Regions from separate parts of the Homo sapiens genome. Here region 2 is linked to region 1. The links come from fine-mapping of genetic effects on gene expression. A gene starts in region 1. The other region holds a variant in brackets. All regions are shown on one strand. Distances are from middle to middle. Region 1 holds the start of NEK6 (NIMA related kinase 6). Region 2 has its middle 24 kb from the start of NEK6.

The links.
Region 2: its variant is fine-mapped to the expression of NEK6 in whole blood (TOPMed, PIP 0.93).

What each region holds. Positions count from the first base shown.
Region 1 is chr9:124,256,799-124,259,699 of GRCh38, reverse strand. NEK6 (NIMA related kinase 6) reads right to left here and starts at 1,751. Exons shown (of 10, transcript NM_014397.6): 1 at 1,615-1,751. LOC613206 (a long non-coding RNA gene) reads left to right here. Exons shown (of 2, transcript NR_149024.1): 2 at 206-490. RefSeq lists an enhancer at 189-1,134 and silencers at 1,172-1,541, 1,602-1,731.
Region 2 is chr9:124,232,058-124,234,958 of GRCh38, reverse strand. No RefSeq gene overlaps it. Among named protein-coding and RNA genes, the nearest start is that of NEK6, 24 kb to the left of the region's middle. The variant G/A (reference allele first, on the strand shown) is at 1,277.

The DNA of each region.
Region 1 (2,901 bases):
TGCCCGTCAGGCTCTCTGCCAGGGAGTGACTCATTCCACGGCTCCCCACAGGCATATTTTATTTGGGGGTGGGGGACGCAGCGAGGGCTTGGCCTTGATGGGGGAAGGAGAGGGGGCATTTCCAGCAAACCCAGAAGGTGTTTTCTTTTTTTCATTTTCAGGAGAAAAAAGAAAAAGAATGTGGGTCTTTTTTGCTTCCTTCCAGGTTTTGTTTGCTAAAAGAAGACGTCCAAAGTTCATTCGGTAAGCTCAAACTCGCTGAGTCCAAACTCGCTGAGTCCGGGGCAGGCGCTTCCAGACGGCTCTGCGTCCCTTTCAATGAAATTCTTCTTCCATTAACGACAGGGTTTTTAAACGTGCCTCCAAGACCTGCCTGCACGTACTGTACACCAAACTAAGGCGACATTTTCCCCCAAAAAAGGCAAGCTGAATTTGGAAAAGTCAGACCAACTAGGGAGCTCTGGAATTTCTAAAGTTTGCCTTAAAGCAATTAAGACTTTCAGCTGCAAAGATTTTCAACAGTTAGAGAGCACGCACACACACAAAAGCCTGTCAGTCAAAACTGCAAGGACAGACCTCGGAAGCTGGTGTCCCAAGCCCGCTGTGATCAATTTGTTACTGTCCTGGGATTCACACTTGGAGCCTAGGAGAGGTATAAATAAATCAAAAGATCCGTCTACTTAGCAGGGCAGGCAGAGAGGCCCCCACATACACAGGCAAGTCTAGGGTCAGCCCCCCAGGCCTGGCTGGAGAGAGACAAGAACAAAGACAGGAGAGCCTGGAGGATATTTAGGAAAACACACGTCCTCGGGTGCCCGGCCGAGGGGCCCACCACAGCCTCCGCTCGCCCAGCCTGTGTATGCAGAGAGGGTCCTGCCAGTGGCCCTGCCGCAGCCTGGCTCTAAGACCTTTGCCTCTGTCAGGCCCAGCCAGGCTCTGAGTCTGCCCTCCTGGCCCCTGGTTCACCGGATCAGGCCCAGCCCCGACCCCCAGCCCATGCCAGGCCGCTTCTCTCTCCACGGGCTCCCTGGCTCGGGGGCCATCACTGTGCAAAGGCCTGGTGGGCGCAAAGGGGGCCGGCCCCTCAACCTCAGTAATAAACACGCTCGCACGGCCCTGCACACTCGTTATACTCACACCCACACAGGCATACTTTCGCCCTTCTAGGCTCACGCATGTGCTTGCACACAAATCACTTTGGAATGCACACACGTGCACACACACACTCCCTGAGACCCGCACGTACTCCCTGCGGCGCCCGGCACACTCCTCCGCCCGTCGTCCCCACTCGGGAAGTGGGTAGCGGGGAGCCATGCCCGCGTCCCCGCACGCACTCACCCCAACAACGCCACCAGACGCTCCGGGGTGCACACGCACACCCGCCGGGGACGCGCACACCCCGGGACACGCGGACACGCCGCCCCCGCCCGCCCGGCCGCCGACACGCTCAGCCCCGCGCGGCCACACTCGCGCCCGCCTCCCGCTCTCCCCCGCGGAGCCGTGGGCGCGCGCCCGCCCTCGGCCCGGCTGGGGGTGACGGCCCCGCCGCCCGGCCCCCGCCCTTCTCCGGGCCGCGGGGCCCCACCGGCCCGGCCCCAGCCCCAGGCGACTCACCGGCGCGCGGGCGGGCTCGGCTGCCGCTGGGGGACCGGTGCGCTGGCCCGCGGGCGGCTGGAGCGGTGCGTCCCACACGAGTTTGCGGCGCAGCGGCCGCACGCCCGTCAGCTCGGTTCCGCCGCCGCCGCCACCGCCTGCGCGGGCCCGCGCGCCCGCGCGCCCGCCCCTCCCCGCCGCGGGGCCGCGCCGCCCCCAGCGCTCGTGCGCGCTGCCGCCACGCAAGCTTGAGGGGCGGGGGGCGCCCCGGCGGCGTCCTTCCTGGGCCTGGACCCCTCGACTCCGCCGAGTTCTGCGGCCGATCCGCTCGGCCGAGGAACCCCTTCCCCATTTCAGAGATGGGAAGACTGAGGCCCAGACTCACAGGGCGCAGGCCGGCGTCTCCCCATCTTCTCCGGCTCTAGACTTATGATGAGGGTCTGCAGTCAGCCAACCCTTGGACTCCTGTGCGTCTTCGGATTCCCCATCGCCTAGCATTGCTCCTACCACAGCCCTAGTCATACTGAAATTGGCACAGTAACAAGCACTTATTGTGCACCAGCTGAATGCAGGCACTGAAGTAGGCTCCAAGAGTATTCCGATGAGGGGAAGGCCCTGCCCCCTGCCCTCAAAGTGCCAGCGACTCTTCATCTGGAGCTCCCACTTCCTGTGGCCCCCGGGGGACCAGCAAGAGCCAATGTGCAGAGGTTTCTGGAAGTAGTAAAAGTCCCCACTAAAGAATGTTGAACGCCCCCTCTAGAAGTCAGAGCCTCCCTGAGACCCAAGCAGCTCAGTTCTCACTTCACCTCCTCCCCGCACCGAGAGCGGCCGCTCCTGGCTGGGCTGTTTCCACCCCTGCTGCCTCCCCTCCACATTCAAAACTGTGCTGCACCCCAGGAGGGCTGGAGCCAGGGACACTGACTGCCTGCTTGGGCGCAGCACTGTACTGGGCACAGGGTGAATGCCCGTCTGGCTTCTGTTTGCCAAATGAGTGGAAGTGCTTCAACTGGCCGTGATCTGTAATAATGACACCAACGGAGCGTCCACCACGTGTGCCAACGTTACCCTTGTGCCCATTTTACAGATGGGCTTTGAGGCTTAGAAATGAAATTTCAGGCTGGGTGCGGTGGCTCACACCTGTAATCCCAGTACTATGGGAGGCTGAGGTGGGAGGATGCCTTGAGGCTGGGAGTTTGAGGCCAGCCTGGGCAATATAGCAAAACCCCATGTCTACAGAAAAATGTAAGAATTAGCTGGGTGTGGTAGTGCCTGCCTGCAGTCCCAGCTACTCGGGACGCTGAGGCGGGA
Region 2 (2,901 bases), 25 kb after region 1:
CCATCTGGGCTGGGAAATTTTTTCATGAGAAAGTTTTTACTATGAATTTCTATTCCTTAATTGATGTATAGGACTATTTGGGTTTTCTGTTTCTTCTTTTTTTATGTATATCAAAAATAGACTTTATTTGGCAATGGCGTATTTCAAGCATGAACACCATATTTTGGAAAACAATAGATTTGACACATATTTGTTACCTAATGTTTTCACAGCAGAAGGCTAGAACAAAATTTGACTTGCTTTCCACAGCTTTTAGAAATTTTTAACCGAGAATATCACTAAACAGCATGAAAGACATTTTCTTGGTGAGGCACTACTTTGCCAATCTTTTTTCACTCCTTTTTTTTTCCTTTCCATGTTTCTTTCTCAGCTTTTCTTACTATTTTTGCTTGGTTTTTAATACTTCAGCCTATTTCATAGACCTCCCAGTGACACCCTTAGGTGTTGCTTTATTTAAACAGTGTACTCAAAGCCAAACATATTATGGCTGGACACAGTGGCTCACGCCTGTCATCCTGGCACTTTGGGAGGCCGAGGAGGAAAGATCACTTGAGGTCAGGAGTTTAAGACCAGCCCGACCAACATGGTAAAACCCCATCTCTACTAAAAATACAAAAATTAGCTGGGTAGGTGTGATGTCACACACCTGTAATCCCAGCTACTCGGGATGCTGAGCCAGGAGAATCACTTGAACCCAGGAAGTGGAGGTTGCAGTGAGCCAAGATTGCTTCACTGCACTCCAGCCTGGGCCACAGAATGAAACCCTGTCTTACAAAAAAAAAAAAAAGACCGGGTGTGGTGGCTCACGCCTGTAATCCCAGCACTTTGGGAGGCTGAGGTGAGTGGATCACTTGAGGTCAGGAGCTCAAGACCAGGCTGCCCAATATGGCAAAACTCTGTCCCTTCTAAAAATACAAAAATCAGCTGGGCGTGGTGGCACACACCTGTAATCCCAGGTACTCGGGAGGCTGAGGCATGAGAATGGCTTGAACTGGTGAGGTAAAGGTTGCAGTGAGCTGAGATCGTGCCACTGCATTCCAGCCTGGGCAACAGAGCTAGACTCTGTCTCAAAAAAAAAAAAAAAGCCAACACATTTTATTATTTCAATGCTGATGACAGTTTTATTGGTTTTGCTACATATATGCTAACATGAAATCACTAACATACATATTCACATAATAAAATTTTAGGCCGGGCGTGGTGGCTCATGCCTGTAATCCCAGCACTTTGGGAGGCTGAGGCAGGAGGATCACAAGGTCAGGAGATTGAGACCATC[G/A]TGGCTAACATGGTGAAACCCCGTCTCTACTGAAAATACAAAAAATTAGCCAGGCGTCGTGGTGGGTGCCTGTAGTCCCAGCTGCCGGGTAGGCTGAGGCAGGAGAATGGCGTGAACCTGGGAGGTGGAGCTTGCAGTGAGCCTAGATGGCACCACTGTACTCCAGCCTGGGCGACAGAGTGAGACTCCGTCTCAAAAAAAAAAAAAAAAAAAAAAAATTAACTGCTAGTTTCTCAAACTAAAAGAGAGAAAAAGTAATGTTTTCCCTCTTTTTTTAAACTTGTATTTTTGGTTTGGGGGTACATGTGAAGGTTTGTTACATAGGTAAACATGTGTCATGGGGGTTTGTTGTACAGGTTATTTCATCACCCAGCTATGAAGCCCAGTACCCAATAGTTATCTTTTCCGCTTCCCTTTGTTTCTTCTTGAGAACTTTGCTAGTTTGTGTCTTTCAAGGAATATGCCCACTTCATCTAAGTTGTCAAATTTGTGGTCATAACTTTGGGCACAATACTTCCTTATTATCTTTTTAATGGTCACAGGATGTGTAGGGATGCCCTCTCTTTCTTTCTTTTTTTTTTTTTTTTTTTTTTTTTTTGAGACAAGGTCTTGCTCTGTCACCCAGGCTGGAGTGTAATGGCGCTATCATAGCTCACTGCAGCCTTGACCTCCTAGACTCAAGGGATTCTCCCACCTCAGCCTCCCAAGTAGCTAAGACTACAAACATGAGCCACCACACCCAGCGAATTTTTTTACTTTTTGTAGAGACAGGGTCTCGCTGTGTTGCCCAGGCTGGTTTTGAATTCCTGGCTTTAAGCAATCCTCCTGCCTCAGCCTCCCAAAGTGTCAGGATTACAGGCAGAGCCACTGCACCCAGGCTTTCATTTTTCTTGTTGGTAATTTGTGTCTTTTTTTTTTTCTTTGAGATGGAGTCTTGCTCTGTCGCCCAGGCTGGAGTGCAGTGGCACTGTCTCGGCTCACTGCAAACTCCACCTCCTGGGTTCAAGCAATTCTCCTGCCTCAGCCTCCCGAGTAGCTGGGACTTCAGGCACACGCCACCACATCTGGCTAATTTTTTGTATTTTTAGTAGAGACGGGGTTTCACTACATTAGACAGGATGGTCTCCATCTCCTCCCCTCGTGATCCTCCCACCTCGGCCTCCCAAAGTGCTGGGATTACAGGCATGAGCCACTGCACCTGGCCCGTGACTTTCTCTTTTCTACTGATTGAAGATGAAGTTTATCAATGTTGTTGATGTTTTCAAAGAGGCAGCTTGTGGTTTCATTTATTTTCTCTCTTGTTTTTCTGTTTTCTAGTCATTGATTTCTACTCTTATCTTATTATTTCTTTCTTTCTACCTGCTTTGGGTTTAATTTGCTCTTCTTTATCTAGTTCCTAAAGGTGGAAGCTTAGCAAATGTATTTATTTTGGGACTTTCTTCCTTTTGAATAAAGCCATTTAATGTTATAACTTTCCCTTTATTGTATTGCTTTATCTGTATCACATAGGCTTAGATATGTTACATTTTCATTGTTATTCAGCTCAAAATATTTTCTAGTTTTCTTTGTGATTTCTTTCTATATATATATATATATATATATATATATATATATATATATATATA